2 separate regions of the Homo sapiens genome follow, and region 1 is linked to region 2. Evidence: fine-mapped expression QTL. A gene starts in region 2. The other region holds a variant in brackets. All regions are shown on one strand. Distances are between the middles of the regions. Region 1 overlaps CAMSAP1-DT (CAMSAP1 divergent transcript). Region 2 holds the start of UBAC1 (UBA domain containing 1).

Region 1 (9,960 bases), 35 kb before region 2:
TTTAATTAAGTGAATTAAATGCTAATTTAATTAAGTGAATTAAATTCCATTTCTCCCTTGTGAGATAAATAATAAGGAATGCGGTTTTGCCAGGTAGGGGTGAGCTTTGAACGGCCACAGCATGGGACAGGTAAGAGGTCTGTGCCACCCGAGACCTGGCGAACGCCCGAGTTTCAGCCTCACGCACATTCCTTCCCCAAGAGCAGCTGCGCTCTGTTCTCCCACGGGAGAAGCTGTCTGCTCTTGGTGCTCCCAGACACCTCCTGGGTTTGCCCGTCCTGCACTGGGCTCTGTCCTCTCTCACACTGCTCGGCCAGCCATCCGGCTCCTGGGACGGGCGAGCCCAGGACACCCCCCGGGCCTGCCTCCACACAGGTGCTCTCTGAGGCCACCTTGGGCTCCCCGGCTCTGGCCCTGCTCCCCTGCCCTGCTTGCCTGTCATGCTGCGTGGATCATGCCTCGGTGTTCCGTGACTGCTGGTGTTCAACGACCTGAGAAGTGGGACGAGTGGGCGCTGTTTCCTTATGCATCAGGAATCTGGGGGCCCTGCAGAGAGGTGCCATCACCCTCACCAGCCCCAGGTTCCCACCTCCGTGGGGGGAGGTAGAGGGACAAATGGGACACCCTCGTGTGGATTGTGGCACATGGACCCAGTCCCTGTCACCCTAGTCCAACATGGTCAGGTGCCAGCCCTTTCTGGAACCCTGGCCTCTGGTCACCCCACCCTCCTGGGTGACCTGATCCCCAAGCATTTCAGACCCAGCTGCTGGAGAAGGCAAAATGCACCATTACCCACACATCCCCTCCCCTCCTTCATAACCCTAACGCTAACTGCACACCTGCCTCCTGGAGCTCTTCCCCGAGCCTGCCTGCCTCGCCTTTGCTCCCGTGCCCCCAGCTCACCTCCTGCTCTGGGTGGTGACCCGGGTGAGGCCTCTGGCCCTCACAGCCTCTGGGCGGCCCCAGACCAGCCCTGCAGATGCCCCTAGGCATGGACGGAGGAGTGGGGAGCGATGAGAGAGGAAACCCTGACCTGGCTGAGCTCTGAGCCCTTCGCCTTCTCAGTGGCCCCAGGATGGCCCAGCTGGTAGCCCAGATATCCCCAGCGGGCCGGCCCATCAGACCCTCCCCTGGCAACAAGGTCACACAAGCCTTGGTAAAGGTGGCAGTGTTCCACCCTGGACCCAGGCCTTCCAAATCGGGCCCTGCACCCCCTCAGGAGGGGCACAGGACTTTTCCCCACCTGGCCCCCAGCCTAGTTGGAAGTCAGGGCAGGGTGAGCCCATGCTCCTGGGCATCCGGCCTGCAGGCTGACGCTTGCTCACCTCATTGTAAGGAGGTCATTTTTTATTATTTAAAAAAAATAATGGAGACAGGGTCTTATGTTGCCCAGCCTGGTCTCGAACTCCTGGGCTCAAGCGATCCTGCCACCTCGGTCTCCCAAAGCACTGGGATTACAGGTGTGAGGCACCGTGCCCAGCCTTTCTATTTTTTTTAATTTTTGTAAAGTGGTAATTTCAACATATTACCATCTCCCCTAATGACAGTGGTTTGTTTGTTTTGTTTTGTAGGTTTTTGTTTTTTGGGGTTTTTTTTGAGTCTCACTCTGTTGCCAGGCAGGAATGCAGTGGCTCAATCTCGGCTCACTGCAACCTCCACCTCCCAGGTTCAAGCGATTTTGCTGTCTCAGCCTCCCAAGTAGCTGGGATTATAGGTGCCTGCCACCACGCCCAGCTGATGTTTATATTTTTAGTAGAGACAGTGTTTTACCATGTTGGCCAGGCTGGTCTTAAACTCCTGACCTCAGGTGATCCGCCTGCTTCAGTCTCCCAAAGTGCTGGGATTACAGGCATGAGCCACCCTGCACAGACTTTCTTTTTTGAAATGGATTTTCCCTCTTGTTGCCCAGGTTGAAGTGCAGTGGTGCGATCTTGGCTCACTGCAACCTCCATTTCCTGGGTTCAAGTGATTCTCCTGCCTCAGCCTCCGGAGTAGCTGGGATTACAGGGGCCCGCCAAACTCCTGACCTCGTGATCTGCCTGCCTCGGCCTCCCAAAGTGCTGGGATTACAGGCGTAAGCCACCAATCCCAGCCTTTTTTTTTTTTTTTTTTGAGACGGAGTCTGGCTCTGTTTCCAGGCTGCAGTGCAGTGGCGTGATCTTGGCTCACTGCAGCCTCTGCCTCCCAGGTTCAAGCGATTCTCCTATCTCAGCCTCCCGAGTAGCTGGGATTACAGGAGCGCACCACCACGCCTGGCTAATTCATTTTTTTTGTATTTTTAGTAGATGCGGGGTTTCACCATGTTGGCCAGGATGGTCTCCATCTCTTGACCTTGTGATCTGCCCGCCTCGGCCTCCCAAAGTGCTGGGATTACAGGCGTGAGCCACTGCACCCGGCCAACTTTCTTTCTTTAATTTTTGTAAAGGTAATTTCAACATATTACCACTTCTCCTAATAATAGTGTTTTAACAAATATTAGGCAGCTTCATTTTTGCTTTGAGTTGTGCTTTTAAAAGAACTAAATTAGGTCGCTGGAGATTAAAGCATTTACCATTTAGCAGGCAGGGCCTGTCCAGAGCCCCAGTCGGGAAAACGGGCTAAACAGCTGGCTTAGCTTTAGGACTTCCCTCGTTCCCTCCTCTCCCTCCAGTCCTGGGGACGGAGGTCTGGCGTGGGGATCAGGGTGGCCTCCGCCCACTCCCCTGCGACCCCCAGGCTGGGCTCCAGGAGTCAGCGGGGAGCCCCAGGTGGGGGATCTCTGCGCCCCAGCCCTTCTGGGTCAGGCTAGTTACCTCCCGCGGTGCAGCACGCATCTCTGTCTCCACTGACTTGCAAGGCTAAAAATGTGCAGAACCCAAACCAAAATGTGCCTGCCCATTGTGTTTAAAATACCACTGTTGCAGATGTATTACTGTCTGGCACGGTGGCTCACGCCTGTAATCCCAGCACTTTGGGTGGCCGAGGTGGGTGGATCACGAGGTCAGGAGATCGAGACCATCCTGGCTAACACAGTGAAACCCCATCTCCGCTGAAAATACAAAAAATTAGCCAGGTGTGGTGGCAGGCGCCTGTACTCCCAGCTACTCGGGAGGCCGAGGCAGGAGAATGGTGTGAACCCGGGAGGCGGAGCTTGCAGTGAGCCGAGATCGCAACACTGCACTCCAGCCTGGGCGACAGAGTGAGACCTCCGTCTCAAAAAAAAAAAAAATTAGCTGGGCATGGTGGCACGCATGCCCGTAATCTCACCTACTCAGGCGGCTGAGGCAGGAGAATCACTTGAACCCAGGTGGCAGAGGTTGCGGTGAGCCGAGATCGCGCCATTGCACTCTAACCTGGATGACAGAGCAAGACTCTGTCTCAAAAAACAAACAAACAGAAAAAACAAGTGTATTACCATATGGAAATTATTTTATGACAAAGCATGCATATTGGTTTGCTTAAATAAACCGTTCTGACTAACAGTACTTCAGGCCCAGCATGGAAATTTTGAAAAATCACAGATGATAAAAAACACGAGACTAGCTTGGGTCTCAAGTTTTTCTTCCTTGGAGTTTTGGTTTTTCATGAACTTTCTGGGAAATGAAATTTAGTAGTTTGGGGGCATCGATTAGTTCATAGAGGATGTAAAACGGAGGGATTGGGTTCGACGCCTTAAAAACACGGAAGTTACAGCTGGAAAGAAAATTAGAGGCAATTTTTTTTATTTTTGTATTGAGGGGAAATTCACATAACAAACTCAGCCGTGCTAAGGTGGACAATTCAGTGCCGTTGCATTCATTCCCGATGCGTCGCAGCCACATCCATCTAGTTCCAGAACACTGTCATGCCCTGGGAAGGAAACGCCCTCCCCATCAGCCCTCACTCCCCATTCCTCCCTCCCCCAGCCCGTGGCAACCACCCATCTTTGTGTCTCTGTGGATTCGCCTGTTGTGGACATTTCATAGAAATGGAATCAAGACAACATGTGGACCTTCATGCCTGGCTTGTCCTGCTCAGCATGATGCCTTCAAGGTTCACGCGTGTCGCTGCGTCAGGGCTCACCTCCTCGTGTGCCGAACACCCCATTGTCTGGGTGACCACATGTTGCCCCCCTACTCCTCCACCAATGGGCTTCGTGTTGTCGCCACCTCTTGGCTGCTGTGAACCCGTTTGACTTTTTGAACTAACTTTCAGATTCACTCTTGTAGTTTCAAGGTCGAACCTACAGAAGGCGAAAGAAACCCGCCGGCTCAGGAATTGTGCAACCAGTGGCCTGGCGGCTGCAGGTCCCCCGTGCTGGGGGTCTTGACTTTGATGCTTTCCCAGGTGCCCACTTGTTTCAGGAGCCTCCAACCTGTGAACCTCGCACACACAGCTTGGTGCATGTCAGGTAGAGCCTAGTAGAGCTGTTCTTTTTTGGGGGGGTGGGGGATGGAGTTTCACTCTTGCTGCCCAGGCTGGAGTGCAATGGCGTGATCTCGGCTCACTGCAACCTCCGTCTCCCAGGTTTAAGCAATTAATGGTGAGGGCAGCCACATCATGGAAGTGGTGGGCCCAGCCTGGATAGGAGGGAAGCAGCGAGAGTGTCCGCTGTCTGCGAGGGCCACCCTGGCCCCGGACTCACTCCTGGGTAGGGCCTGTGGGGTCAGACCCCCTCCCTCAGCGAGCCCCAAGGAAGCGTGGGGTCCGACCGCCGCCATCCTGGGACTGAGTTTGGAGGCCTCAGTGCTTGGCTGGCAAGAGCAGCCACCTGGGGACACGGTGATTAATTCAGCATCAGAATGCAAGCGTGGGAGTTTCCAGGAACACTGAGGTTCAGGTCTGGGGGCGGAAGAGAAAAGCAGCTCATTCTCAGAAAGCACTGAGAGGCCGGGCCCTGTGGCTCATGCCTGTAATCCCAGTGCTTTGGGAGGCTGAGGCAGGATTGCTTGAGGCCAGAAGTTCAAGACCAGCCTGGGCAACACAGCAAGACCCCGTCTCTAGAGAACATTTAAAAACTAGCTGTGCGCAGTGGTGCATACCTGCAGTCCCAGCTACCCTGGAGGCTGAGGCGGGAGGATGCTTGAGCCCAGGAGTTGTGGGCTACAATGAGCCGTGATGGCTGCACTGCACTCCAGCCTGGGTGACAGAACGAGACCTCGTCTCTAAAGTAAATACATAAAACCTAAAAACAACGGCCGGTTGTGGTGGCTCACACCTATAATTCTAGCACTTTGGGAGGCTGAGGTGGGCAGATCACAAGATGAGGAGTTCGAGACCAGCCTGGCCAACATGGTGAAACCCCGTCTTACTAGAAATAAAAAAATTAGCTGCGTGTGGTGCTGGGCGCCTGTAGTCCCAGCTCCTCAGGAGGCTGAGGCAGGAGAATGGCATGAACCCAGGAGGCGGAGGTTGCAATGAGCCGAGATCTTGCCACTGCACTCCAG[C/T]CCGGGCGACAGAGACTCCGCCTCAAAGAAAAAAAACAAGGAGAGCCCTGCAGGCCCCTCCTTAGGCTGGCCTCAGAGGTCTTCAGTGGCCAGAGGGTGTGAGGATCTGCGGGACGTGCCGACTGGGGCAGCCCCCACCACACCCTGGGATGCACCCTGGCTGGGACCAGTCTCCAAATTCCCCTGCATCCGTCTCAGGCTGGAAAACTCTCCAACAAAGTTGCCTCCAGTCACTGGATGGGAAGCGGCCTCTCAGCTGAGCCGGACCCTCTCTCCTTCAGCTGGTGCTGCAGTGACTCCAAGTGACCAGTGACACCAGGTGTGGCAGCTGCGCACAGCCTTTATCGTGCCGCACTCAAGGGCCCCGGGAAGGGAACCCAGGCAGGGCCCAGTGCCATGGTGGTCTCCACTTCGCCGTGGAGAGAACGGCCAGGTGACCCAACCACAGCGAGGCCTTCAGTGTGTTCCTCACTTCCACCTGTGGCGGTCGCTTCTGGCTGTCACCCTGAGCACATCCATGTGGCCTCTTGGAGTGGCCTCTCCACGTGGCCTAGGCTTCCTGGCAACGCAGCCGCCTCAGGGCAGTGTGACTTCCTGATGGTGGTGACTCAGGACAACAAAAGCGAGAGGCCCTGAGAGTCAGGCGGGCACCACAGGGCCTTGCTGAGGCAGCCGGGGACTCCCGCTCCCTCTGCTGACACCATTGGTGGCCAGTGAGTCAGAGGCAGAGGTGCCAGAGACCCCGCCCGAAGGGAGGAGATCTGAGAGCCTGCAGCCACAGGCTCCTCCAGGACTCGAGCACCGGGGCCGCACAGAGAGCCCTTTCTCTCCTGGGCAGGCCAGGCGGGGATCCCCCAGCGCCCTAACCTGCTCTGTGACCACGGCAATGTGGCCTTGGGGATGTGCCCTGCCTCTCTGGGTTCCAGTGCAGGACTCAGGGCTGGCCACCTGAGAAGCATCTCTAGGACATTCCAAAGCCTGGAACAGGGACAGCATTGTGGCCCTGCTCTGGAAGGCTGCGTGGAAGCCAAGAAGTTGTCCTGGCCTGTCCTGGAGGTGCCTTTGCCCTTGCTTCCTGTCCTTGTCCCCAGGGGCTGCACCCATCCTACTGACTCTGCCAGCAGTGCCAGCCTGGTCCCAGGCACCCTGGAGCTGCTCCATCCCCATTGGGGGCCAAGAGCTGCCGGCCCACACCAGAGGCCCCGGCCACACAGGAGCCACGGGACAGCCGGAAGGGAAGCCAGGAGGCCTTGCTTGGGGAGCTGGGCACACGCCTGGCCTCCCCGTGATGCTCCCCTGGACGACACACGCACGCACACATGCACGCCTGTGCATGCACACAGAGCACACATGCACACACACGCACACCTGTGCATGCAGAGCACACGCACACACACACAAACCTGTGCATGCACACAGCATACACGCATGCACGCCTATGCATGCAGAGCACACATGCACACACATGCACGCCTGTGCATGCACACAGCACACATGCACACACCTGTGCATGCACACACACACATACATGCCTCTGCATGCACACAGCACACACGCACACCTGTGCACGCAGAGCACACACGCACACACACGCACGCCTCTGCATGCAGAGAGCACACACACACACATGCACGCCTGTGCATGCACACAGAGCACACACGCACACCACACCACCACACACACACTTCAAAAACCACACACGGGCGACGCCGCAGGCAGAGTGTACCACAGCCCCGCAGCTGCCACCCCTGCCCTCTGGGAGAGTCCGCTTCCGAGCTCACTTCGAGGAGGATCTTTCTGGCGACAGAGCCAGTGCTGTGGGCGGGAAGGCCCCACCTGACCACACCTCCTGCTCTGTGGCACCTGTGTCCCCGCCACCCCCCAGCCCGAGTAAAATCATTTCTCTAGACTCTGCGGCTGGGCCCTGGAAGTCAGGCTCTCCCCGACCTGCCAGGGCAGTGCCTGCTGCGGCGGAGCCTGGACACCAGGTCTCCTGTCTCCATCCATCTCCACTCAAGGACAGGGGTGCAGGTCCCAGAGCTTTTGTCAGGACTCTGCCAGCTTGCAGAGCCGCTGCGGCCACAGGGCTCATGGTCCCAGGCCTGCTCCACCACGGCCCTCGGCAGTGGCCCTGATCCCTGGCTGTGGCCCTGGTGCCCGAGGCTCACACCAGGGCAGGAACGTGCTCTTGGGTGTGGGTGGGGTCCACTCTGACAGGGACCTGGAAGGGCCCTCACAAGTCTGGGATCCAGGCCCTTGTCATTCAGGAGCCCAGGAGGGGTCAGCCAGGTCCCCAGAGGGGAAGGGGACGTGCCTGGGCTGTGAGGTCCACAGCCTCTGGGTGAAGCAGAGGCCAGCCCAGGATGGGGCTCACAGTTCTCAGGAGCCCGGGAGGTGGCACTGGGAGGGTGGGCATCCCCGCCCACCCCAGAGAGGCCAAGCACAGGGCAGGAGTGTGGCCACACGGCCCAGGGGGCGCATGGCTGCTGAGAGGAAGAGCGCAGTTGCCTGGGGGAGGCTGAGCACGATGCAGGGTGGACAGAGACCCCACTGCTGGGCGAGAGCCAGGCTCATGCCCTGCTGGCGCCAGAGCCTGCCCACAGCCCAGGGGCTGCCTGGGAGGCGCGGGAGGACCACACTTGGGGCCCTACACAGGCTGGGACTCATTCTGAGCCCCTAAGGACAGCTTGTGGGTGAAGGGAGCCCCTCTTGGGAATGTGGAGAAGAGAGTGGGGCACCTGCTGGCCAAAGAAAGCCCTGGGCCCACCCCCAGTTATGTGGGCAGTGACAGTTGGGGACAGGGCACTCAGCCATGCTCCCCGGCGACTGCTGGGTGATGAGCAGCCCAACCGCAGGCCCTGGCCCTGCCAGCCCTGGGCTTAGGCTGAACCCGTCAAAAAGGCCCTGCCTGGCCTTGGAGAGCCCACCGTGCCCTGCGGGGTATGAGGCTGGCAGACCCTTGAGGACCAAGCCAGGAGACATCCCTGGCGGAGACTCGATCCCAGGAAAGTGCCGGGGGTGCACTGGCAGGTTCCCCTGCAGGAAGCCAGCTCTTGGGAGCCCAGAATGCAGGCACCACCCCACAGGGGGCTCCCTCAGACTCCCTCGTGTGCCAAGCCAGTGAGCCCGCCTGGGAGTGGGGCAAGGGTGGACCTCACTTAAGTGCAGCTGTTCAAGGGGAGACCGTCAGGCGGGAAACCAGAGCGAGCTCTGAGAGAACGTCGAAGAGCCACTAACTGCCTCAGACCCCCGCCCCCAGCCCTGCCCAGTCTGCAGCATCCAAACCCTTGTCCCCCAGAGCCACATGGCTGTGTTCTCTGCCTGGGAGTCAGTCCCCAGCCAGGCACCAGGCATCCTCACCTGGAGGCAGCTGTGCCTTCCAAGCCTCCACTGGGCACAGAAAGCTGCTTGCAGGTGCCACACCCGACTCCCGGCCCTAACCCGAGAGAGAGCCCCTGGGTGGGCGGGGGCACCCCTGGGCACATGCTGTCTCTGGGCGGTGCTCTCATGGTTAGGAGGCTCGGCCACATCTGCACATGAGGGTTCCTTCTCTCCAGCCTGTGCTGGGCCCAGAACGCCAACAATGCCCTTCCTCTGGCTGAGGCTGTGCCCAGCGCATGAATGCTCTGCCCACCCCACACCCTGCAAATGGCAGCTCATCCTCCTGCCTTCCCGTGGGACCAAGCATGCCTCCAAGGGCAGCGAAGGGCACGGGGGCGAACCCCACAGCTGGGCTGAGGCTGACCCAGGCAGGCCCCACCTGCTCCCCGGATGCACTGAGGCCCCCGATGGTGCTGTCCCCACACCCCCAGCAGGAATGTCCTCTGGGATTCAGGCTCCTGCGGTCTCTGGCTCCCATGCTCCCTGTCCCAGCCCCACCTCCCACCCGCCTGTTCCAGCGAGTGTTTTCCAAGTGCCTCCACAACCAGCCAGCCCTGAAACGGGACGGAGCAGGGCCCTGACCTCGAGAAGGATGCAGGCTGGTGGACCCCCAGCCTCTCCCACATCCAGTACCTCCCGGAGCCCCCCAGTCCCCACCAGCTGACAGTGAGCCCCACCCCTGCCTTCAGACTCCTCACCCGGGGTCCCACCGCCATGCCAGCTCGCTGTAGTGGCCCAAGTGGCTGGGCCACCTCTCTCTGCACCTGGGGGGAGGAATCCCCTGCTTGTGTGGACGGCGCCTACAGTCGGCACAGCAATGTCCTGACCCCACGATCTCAGGGGAAGTCACCCCTCCAGCAGCTGAGCCACGCTGTCCTGGAATCTCAGCATGATCCCACTCCACGAGGAAACGCATGTGTCATCGCCAAGCTCGGCCACCGGAGCAGGAGGGAATGCTGGCCAAGTGAGCCATCTAACTCCCTCCACCTTCCCTGGCACACAGGTGACCTGCCTCGGCATCACACCCTGGTCTAGAGCCCTGAGTATGGCCACAGGGCACTGCCCAGGGGTCCTGCTCCACAGGACCCCGGAAGAAGAAAAACGGCTTAGCAGAAGCTCAAAATGACACAGGTGGCCCTTATCTCAACAGAGCAATGTGCACCGGAACATCTGT
Region 2 (9,800 bases):
TGAAGAATGGCAAACACTGATGGTGCCGTGTGATGAAGACTGAGGTCGGCACATGTGCCTGCATGTTCGTGCCCAAGTCGGTCCAGAGCTCCACGACTCCACTCTATTATCTACCTCAGCACCATACAGCCCGACACACGACAGCACAGCACAGCACACCACCGCACAGCACAGCACCGCACACCACACCAAACAGTGCCCACCTAACCAAATATGGCGCCTCCCCAGCCGGAATCGTGGGGTGAGAGGAGAGGGGCTGCACTTCTGTGTTTCACAAAATACCCACAGTTTCCATAGCCTGGCCTGAAAACCCTTCAGAACTCAGAGCTTGGACGGAGAGAAGGCTGACTATTTTCTTGCTCTTACAGATCCCCTGAGGTTTGATGGTAGAATTACCTGACTATCAGAAAAGGATGAAACCCTCACTGGGCACTTTCTAAACCCGGTAGCAGGCTCAGCCTGTGGGTCAGGAGCATGGCCCAGCCTGGAGCTGGGCCGGGGCACCACCCCAGGACAGGCCGTCCTCGGACGTCTCAGGTGGCCGGGCAGACGCCCTGCTGGCAGCTCACTTTCCACCACCCTTTGCTGCCACAGAGGCTCTGAAACACCCAGCACACACAACTGCTTGCTGGGAAAGAAAATCTAAGCACACACTTCACCTCTCAACACTGGCATTTTCAGAGTAACTGGAATTTCTGTTACTCTCAAGACTGAAAACGGTTTTGAAAAAGGGATTGACGGCTTCAGGGGCTCACTCCTTCACACAAAACTGGCCAGGCTGAGGGGATGTTGGGGGGACGCAGCTACTAGGAAGACACACTCCTGCCATTTACAACAGGGCAGAGAACCCTCAAGTGCCTCTGGATTTGACAATGGCTCTGCTCCCTGAAATACTGGGGGTGCTTCCTCATGATCCTAAAGTTTGCAGGCTAGTTCATTTGTCAAGTTCAGAATACAGACTACGAAATGCAGTTTTCCAAAATAATTCTCATACTGATTCCCAAAAAACCCACAGTCCACGTGTCACCAGCACACCAGGAACAACACGGAAGCACTAGGACGACCGTGTCACTCTGCTTCTTTGTTCTCGGCAGAAGCTGGGGTATGGCAGCAAAAAAGCCCCAACCAAGGCCGCTGGAGTAGGGAGGCCCTCACACCCCCACCCCACTCCATCCTGCTCCTCCCCAGAAGAGTAGTGACTTCGTTTCTGCTTGTACCTGATGCAACCTGCCATCTGAGGACCCATCTTCATGCGATCTAGGAAATGGAAAATTTAACAGCTATACTAGCGGGTACTCTCTTCTAGTCTGGCAATTTTATGAACTCCTTCTTTTTTTTTTTTTTTTTTTAAAGACAGGGTCTCATTCTGTCACCCAGGCTGGAGTGCAGTGGCGCGATCTCCGCTTATTGCAACCTCCGCTTCCCAGGTTCAAGCGATTCTTGTGCCTCAGCCTCCTGAGTAGGTGGGATTACAGGAGTCCGCGACCATGCCAGGCTATTTTTTTACATTTTTAGTACAGAAGGGGTATTGCCATGTTGGCCAGGCTGGAATTTCATGAATGTTTACGACACACCAAAAACTCTACTGCACCACAGGTATAATTTTCTTTTTTTTTTTTTTTGAGACGGAGTCTCTCTCCGTCGCCCAGGCTGGAGTGCAGTGGCTTGATCTCGGCTCACTGCAAGTCCCACCTCCCAGGTTCACACCATTCTCCTGTCTCAGCCTCCCGAGTAGCTGGGACTACAGGTGCCCGCCACCACGCCCGGCTAATTTTTCTGTATTTTTAGTAAAGATGGGGTTTCACTGTGTTAGCCAGAATGGTCTCGATCTCCTGACCTTGTGATCTGCCTGTCTTGGCCTCCCAAAGTACTGGGATTACAGGCATGAGCCACCGTGCTCAGCCAGGTATAATTTTCTAAAACTCATTAACTACCTGTTGTACAAGACAGGTTCCTCTGCCCCCTTCTCCACTCCAGGGCAATGGAAGCTAGAGGCCACCACGGTGATCCCAATTTGCACAAAACAGAAAAGGGAAAGGCAAAAGCAAGAGTTTTGATCATAAAACCCCTCCTTGATTCAGGAGTGCACACCCAGGAGCACAGCAGGGAGAAGCCGACATCATTCCCCTCCAGGCAGATGGAAAAGAGGAAGGAAAAAATCATGCCGGCGTCAGCACGCACTGGGGACCTGGCGAGGAGGAACAAAGCTAAAACAGACACCAGACCTCACTGCCTACAGCAGGATGACATCCAGGGACCGGCTTCCAGAGAGACATTCAAATACACAACTCGAGGGTTCTCTTTTCTGACTAACGCATTCTGGCCCTGCCTGCAGAACCACGCTGGGATGTGGTGGTGGGGAACCTTTCTGACGCTCAGCTCTGGAGTCCTGAAATGTATGTCGGCTCTTGCGGTGTGAAAATCCCCTGCTACTCAGATCCTCCACACCTGTGGAAACCGCAGAGTGGGATACAATCTCAATTTAAAGTAGAATAATGACAAAACATCCCAAATGATACATCTCAACACCAAATGGAATAATATATATCAGGAGTATAATAATTAGCATTGCATCGGAACTGGCTGCCTAACTGACCCTCCGTGCTCCTGAAATTCATGAGTAGGTATCTGTGGATCAAACAGCTCTCATTTCCTATTTCCTTTCATAAAAGAGTATCATGATGGCCATGCACATCGCACCGAGTGAGTTAAAGTAAATGCCGTGCCAACGCAGGGGACATCCCATGTCGATGCAGTGTGGGGTCCACAGGATATTTTTGTCTATTCCATTAACCCACAAGTTTGTTTTGGTGCCACTCTAAGCCCGGCCCTGGACTTGTGGATATAAACCGAACCCCTGAGGAGCTTCTGTACTGGCTCAGGGAGGACACAGCAGCACCTCAGAGAAGTTTCTAGGGTTTTTTGTCTGGTTTTTTTTTTTTTTTTTTTTTGAGACGGAGTCTTGCTCTGTCGCCAGGCTGGAGTGCAGTGGCGCGATCTCATCTCACTGCAACCTCCGCCTCCCGGGTTCAAGCGATTACCCTGCCTCAGCCTCCCAAGTAGCTGGGATTACAGGCACACACCACCACGCCCCGCTAATTTTTTGTATTTTAGTTGAGACGGGGTTTCACCATGTTGGCCAAGATGGCCTCAATCTCCTGACCTCATAATCCGCCCACCTCGGCCTCCCAAAGTGCTGGGATTACAAGTGTGAGTTACCGTGCCCGGCCCAGAGAAGTTTTTTAAAATACACACAACTAGACAAGCAACACCACCTGGCTCAAACAGCCTGGATGCCCACGGAGTTACCGGCGCTGGAGCTTAGTGATGCCCCGATGGTTGTTCAGACGGCAAAATCATGCAGACTGGGGCAGAAGAAAAGCAAGAAAGCAGCCAAAACATACCGGCCCTTGAACGCAGGAGGCTCAGCCCCCTCCTTGGTGTGAATCCTGAGGCCAGCACCTCCCAGTTATTCACAGCCAGTGCGTTCCAGAAGGGGGCTTGCCAAGCTTGCCTCTGACAGTTCCAGAACTCCACAGAACCATGCTCACAAAAGCAACTCGAAAGTACTGTATGCGAGCAGCTACTATGGTAAGAACTGAAGTTTATCCTTAGAGACCACACTCAGCTCAAGTGTAACGCACTCAACCTGTCAACACAGATACGTCGTAACTTATCACATGGAGTCGCCACTAGAAAATTGCAGCCTCCTTCAACCTAAATTCTGCCAAGCCCTCAGATCATGTCAGGTATAGACAGGAGGTCAGTCTGACACACAGACAGGCTTCTTAGCTGACCTTACTGAGTCCTTTAGAGACTCGAGAACTAGTTCCAAAAATCAGCAACCTAAGGAACTAAATACACAGGAGTATTTCAGGTGAATAAACTTTAAAAAGTGTCTCCGCGAGGAGACCCTACTCCTGGGACTTCTCTCTTGACCAATTTTACCTCTGCAGAAAAGCAGGGGCGCAGGGCCTTGTCCCGCAGCGGCACTATTTCAGGGACTCCAGCTAAAAGGCACAGTGGCCTGGGGCCAGCCAGGAAAAGAGCTCCAAGCAGCCGGCTCTGCGGGAAAGGGGAAGAGGAAGGAGAAGGGGCCTCTTCATGAAGGAGCCTACGTTAATTCTCAGCTCTCAAAGATGCTGCTGAAAAAAAACCTCACCCCAACAGCAAAAAGGTACAACTGCCGGAAAGTCCCGAGGCCCTGCTCCGTCGGCGACTTCACTCTCCAGGCCTCAGTTTCCCGATCTGCCCCTACCTCCCTGCGTGGCTGCAGAGTTAACTGAGAGGCTGGCGTGTACAGGGCTCGGCCGGGCGGCTGGCACGGGGCGAGCGCTTAGTGACCGGAGTCCGCCGGCCGAAAGGCCAGGCCCGGGACGAGCGTCCAGAGGTGTGGGATCCGAAAGGGGGAGAGTCGGGCAAACGGGCAGGAGGCGCTGCCTCCACCCCCGGAGGAGAGGGCCTGGGAGCTGCGGACTGGGCGGCGGACCCCAGGTCGGGGCGGTTCGGGGACTGAGGCGGGGTCCGCAGTCGGAGGGGTCCGGAGCGGGTGTTGGGGGCAGGGGAGGGGGCCCGGCCTTACGTGCTTGAGGCAGCGCTCCTTGAGCTTCTCCACCGAGGTGTCCTCGGTGGCCTCCTCCAGCCACTCGGCGCCGTCGGACGCGCAGATGTGCAGCCGCAGCACCTTGCCCGCGAAGATCTTCTCCTCCTGCACGAACATCCCGCCGCCGCCGCAGGGGCCTGCGCCCGCCACCCGGGCCCCTGAAGGTCACCGGGAAGGCGGGCGGGGAGGGGGCGGGGCCAGACCGCCCGCGCGCTCCTTCGCTGGGCCGCCGCCCCGCCCCGGCTCCCGTCGGCCGGGCCGCCGTCACTCTCCGCGGCCTCAGCGGTCGCCTCGCTCCCGCCGCCGCAGCAGCCGCCGGGGGCGCGCCGTCGCGGCCGCACCGGAAGTGCGTCACGGGCGCGTCTGGCGCATGCCGGGAGATGTGGTTCTCGGACAGGCGCCTCGCTCCCGCCGCCGGGGGCGCGCTGTGGCCACCGCAAAGGAAGTGCGTCACGGGGCGCGCCCGGAGCATGCCGGGAGCTGTAGTTCTCTGGTAGCTTCGTTCCTCCCCGAGCTGCAGGCGGTTCCCACCCGGGGCACTCACCACGTGGGACCTCATGGGTTCTAAAGGTAAAATACACGCTGGATCCCAAAGAAGTAACGGGAAAAAGGAATGTAAGGCATCTCGATAATGTTTTCATATTGATTACATGTTGAAATAATATTTTGTATCTATTGAGTTAAGAAAAATATGTCATTAAAATTAATTTCACCTGTTTCTTTTAACCTTTTTAAGATAGAATTTTAAATTGCCTACATGGCTGCTGTGATATTTCTTTTGCACTGCACTGCTGTAGAACGGAGGCTCTCCAAAGAACTTGGCTTTAACAAGCCTAGGTCTTTCTAATTCACACGCAGATCAGAGAGTCACTGTTCCTGCGAAGCCTAGGTTTGCGGGGCACCCAGAGGGGAGGGAAGCCGCCCTTGGTGCAGGTGATGCCAGGCAGACTCATTTTCTGTGGGGTGTGACAAAGAGTCTTTGCTTGGCCAAACTTAAGCAGGCTCCTGAACCTTCTACATCATCTGTACACTTCCTTGTAAAATCCAGTTTTAGCGAAGAGCCTTGATAAGTGAGTTTAGCAAGAACTCCCAGCCTCAATATCAGATCACCCTGGACGTCTGGTCAGGTTCCTCGTCCCCCAGGTGCTGTCTGATATCTCCAGCCTCTCTTCAGCAAGAACCCTGTCAGGTCGGTTTAGCCAGAACCGCCCACATCCCTGATGTTTTCTCCTATTAATTTTCCATTCACTGACCCCACCCACTTGCCCTTGCTGTATTGGGAGTTGAGCCTGACCTCTCTCCCCACTGCAAGCCCCCTTGGCAGTGGTCTCTGTACCTAGCTCAACAGTCCTGGATAACGTCTTACTTACCATGCTCCTAAATATGAATTTTGTAGTTCAGGTTAGACCTGACACATTGACTGATCTGTACTCATTCATCCCATTCATTTAAAAAAACTTTACTGCGCAGAGATGAATAAGGCACAGTTCCCGTTCTCAGAGGTTAGCAATCTAACCGGGGAGGCTGTCTCTGCCTCCTGCCTGCAGGCTTTTATTCTGTCCACACCATTTTGCACACACATCCTCATTTTTCTCCTGTGATAATTCCAACCTCGTCCAGATTCCATGTGTCCAGTTCAGCACTTACTAATTGCCTCTCACAGGTGGGAGCCTCTGCTACTCAATGAAAATATGGTAGTGATTAAGACCAGACACCAGGATACAGTCCTGGAATGGGGCATTTTTAACGCAGGAAGCAGAAGTACCGACTGTTAGAGACCGCAGTGGAGGTGGTGGTAGTATCGTGGAAGCTGGTGGAGGAGAAAGGGGAGGAACACCAAGGTGGTGAGTGGAGAGTGGGGGAAGCTAGAGGGCTTGGAGGAGCCGGGTCAGAGCATTAAGACGTTGCTGTGAGAGCCACTAACGGTGTGACCAGGTGGCAGAATGAATGGTGGTGACTGTGGAGGGGACAGGGAAGAGGGCAGGGCATCCTTGCGGGGGAGCAATGCGGAGGGAGAGGAAGAGGAGAAGGGGGCTTCCAGTGGCCTGTGGGAGGGGAGGCCAGCAGGATTGGAGGGTGTGGGCCCAAGAGTGAAATCAAGGATGACTTGAAGACTTCCAGTGTGGGTGGCAGAGTGCAGGGCAGTGCCACCTTTTGAAGTAGGAGGCAGGAGGAGGAGCCATTGGCCAGGAAGGTGTTGGGTAGTTTTGGACACGGGGACCTGGATGTGCTGGGGGCATTCACACGGAGGTGGCCTGGAGGCAGCTGGACCTACAGGACTGAAGTTGAGGAGAGAGGCCTGGGCTGGAGACAAACACTGGGCAGCCGGCCTGGGCCACGTAGCAAGACCCTCTACAAAAAATAAAAAAAATTAATGAGCTGGGCGTGGTGGTGCACACCTGTGGTCCCAGCTACTCAGAAGGCTGAGGTGGGAGGATCACCTGAGCCCAGGAGGTCCAGGCTGCAGTGCGCCGTGATGGCACCACTGCACTCCAGCCTGGGCAACACAGCAAGACCCCGTCCCAAAAAAACAAAACAAAACAAAAAAGTCAAACCAGTCATGAGCACACCAGCGGCAGCTGGAACTAAGAGGATGCCCACCCCCCTTCCCATGCAGAGGAGCTCATGAAGAAAACAGAGGAGTATGGTACTAGGAAAGTTCCAAGAGTGTGGCTCCATGAAACACAAGGCGGAGAAGATATTGAGGAGAAAATGGGGCCTGTAAGAGAAGAACCAGAAATATCACGTCATCTCAGGGAGCGTCTCCAGGGACCGGAAGGGGACTGGGGCCCAAGCCTGCCTGGCTGCAGATCTGGTATCTGCAGCCACAGTGATGCTGCATAACAAAACCGTCCTAAAACTCAGCGGGTAAAACAACCAACAGCTCTCCATCACTTCTCACAAGTCCACGGCTGGCTGGGTGGTGCTGCTGACCAAGCCAGGCTGGCAGGTGGGCTGGTCGGGATCCCTAGGCCCTCAGCCTCGGTCTCATGTTCCCCAGTGAGTTCCCACGGGAGTGTCTGGGATCCACCGCAGCAGGTTTTTCAGCCTTTGCTTGAGCCATGTTTGTTGATGTCCTCTGGACCAAAGTCAAAGAGGGAGGGGACAAAGTGACAGGGAAAGGATGGAGCCATGGGAAAGCCACCAAGAGGCCACAGATGCACCTGTTCCACCTTCCAAGAAGGCTGGGGGAACAGAGAGAGGAGGGCACCAGCCACGGGGTGCCCAGCAGCATGTTTACATTAGAGAGGCTGGGCGCGTTTCTGGGCTGAGCGTGAGAGCGGGCAGAGGGGAGGCTGGGGCTGGAGGAAGGAGGAGGGATGGGGTGGCTGGGGAGGGGGCTGAAGCTGTGGCCTCAGGGCATCCCGCTTGCTTCTGACAGGAAACATCTGAACCCCCCATCCTGGCATCAAACCTTCCCAGTCTCCCTGTTTCCTCCTGGCCACGGGCTTTACAGCGGGGGGACAGTGCCATCACAAGGACCCTGCAAGGGTCCACAGAGGCCACGCTAGCAAAGACTCAAGCCAAAGCTGACCTGAGTCCTGGAGGAACGCCTGTGCCCTCCCGTGGAAGGATAGGAGGTTCGTGGTACTCTGAGACCACTCCAGCCCCCACCCCGCTTCACCCACGAGGCTGTCAATTGATGGGTTCTCATTGTCTCCCCTCCTCTCATGGGTTTGAGGCTGTTTCCTATAACAAATTGCCACAAACTGGGGCTGGGGGGTGGTGCTTAAAACAATAGAAATGTATTTTCGCCCAGTTCTGAAGGCCGGAAGTCTGAAATCCAGGTGTTCATGGGCCACGCTCCCTCTGGAGCCACAGGGGAGGGTCCTTCCTGCCTCCTCCAGCTCCTGGGGACTCCGGGGTTCCTTGGCCTGTGGCCACATGGCTGTAGCCTCTGCCTCCATCTTCATGCAGCCTCTCCTCTTCCCATGGCTGTCCTTTGTGTGCCTCCCATGAGGACACTTGTCATTGGATTTGGGGCCACCCTAATCTAGGATGATCTTACCTGGAGATCCTGAACTTAATTACATCTGCAAAAACCCTTCTCCCCAAATGAGTTCCCACTACAGTTCCAGGGTTGGGACACAGATGTGTGTTTATCAGGGCCACCAACCAGCCACCAGAGAGGCTTCGGGCCCAACCCCCGGGTACAGCGGGAGCCCAGCAGGGGCTCCTTAGTGGCAGGTAGTTCCCACCCTGCTGGAGTCATCGGCCTCTGCCGTTCTGATGCTGTCCTTTTTGGACAAGGGCTTATGCTCCTCCTCCCTCATTGTCTGTGTCAGAAGTGGCTTCTTGTGTCTCGTGCAGCCAAAGCACTCAGGCTGGCCTGGCCTGGCCTGGCCCCTCACCCTGCATCCTGAGCCTCAGTGAAGCCCCTCCCTCCCTCACCCCTGGGTTGCTCCCGGCCATACCAGCACTCCTGCTTCTCTCCCTACCTCGAAGCCTGTGCCAACCTAGCCCATTCCTCAGGCTCAGGGCCTCCTCCTCCAGGAAGCCCGCCCTGGCTGCACCTCCTCTGGGACACTACTCGGCACACCAAGTGTGTCAGCAAGGAGCCTGGAAGTTGCTGGAAGCCACCTCCCTGTTGGTGGCAGCTCTGCCCCAGGCTGAGGTCAGCTGGCAGTACCTCCCCCCAGCCCCTGAACGTAGGAGAGGAACAGCAATGCCAGAGAGGTCTGGGGGGAGTCCCTCTCCAGTGGCCAGGCTGTCCTGAGGCCTCCCAGGCCCCACTCTCTGGGACTCCCTGGGGTGAGGGGCCAGCATGAAGGGAAGATCCCAGAGTCAAATGGCCCAGTCTGGCATCCACACTGTCTCTTCCCAGTCAAGAGGCCTGGGCAGGTTCTTTTCTTTCTGTCTTTTTTTTTTTTTTTTTTTGACAGAGTTTTGCTCTGTCACCAAGGCTGGAGTGCAGTGGCGCGATCTCAGCTCATTACAAACTCTGCCTCCTGGGTTCAAGTGATTCTCACGTCTAGGCCTCCTGAGTAGCTACGATGACAGGCGCTGCCCCCACACCCTACTAGTTTTTGTATTTTTAGCAGAGACGGGTTTTCGCCATGTTGGCCAGGTTGGTCTCGAACTCCTGACCTCAGGTGATCCGCCCGCCTTGGCCTCCCAAAGTGCTGGGATTACAGGCATGAGCCACTGTGCCTGGCCGGTTCTTTTCTTTCTGACCCTCCGTTTATCTTTCTAGGAG

The links. PIP is the estimated chance that this variant, and not a neighbour inherited with it, causes the effect.
Region 1: its variant is fine-mapped to the expression of UBAC1 in caudate (GTEx, PIP above 0.99). The same link has a PIP of 0.9 or more in amygdala, anterior cingulate cortex, aorta, cerebral cortex, esophagus muscle and gastroesophageal junction.

What each region holds. Positions count from the first base shown.
Region 1 is chr9:135,920,987-135,930,946 of GRCh38, forward strand. CAMSAP1-DT (CAMSAP1 divergent transcript) reads left to right here. Exons shown (of 2, transcript XR_007061860.1): 2 at 1-44. Among named protein-coding and RNA genes, the nearest start is that of CAMSAP1-DT, 18 kb to the left of the region's middle. RefSeq lists enhancers at 4,809-4,888, 5,925-5,974. The variant C/T (reference allele first, on the strand shown) is at 5,406.
Region 2 is chr9:135,956,443-135,966,242 of GRCh38, forward strand. It overlaps UBAC1 (UBA domain containing 1), which reads right to left and starts at 4,931. Exons shown (of 10, transcript NM_016172.3): 1 at 4,583-4,931. The coding sequence starts at 4,720. RefSeq lists silencers at 4,541-4,660, 4,671-5,080 and an enhancer at 4,551-5,051.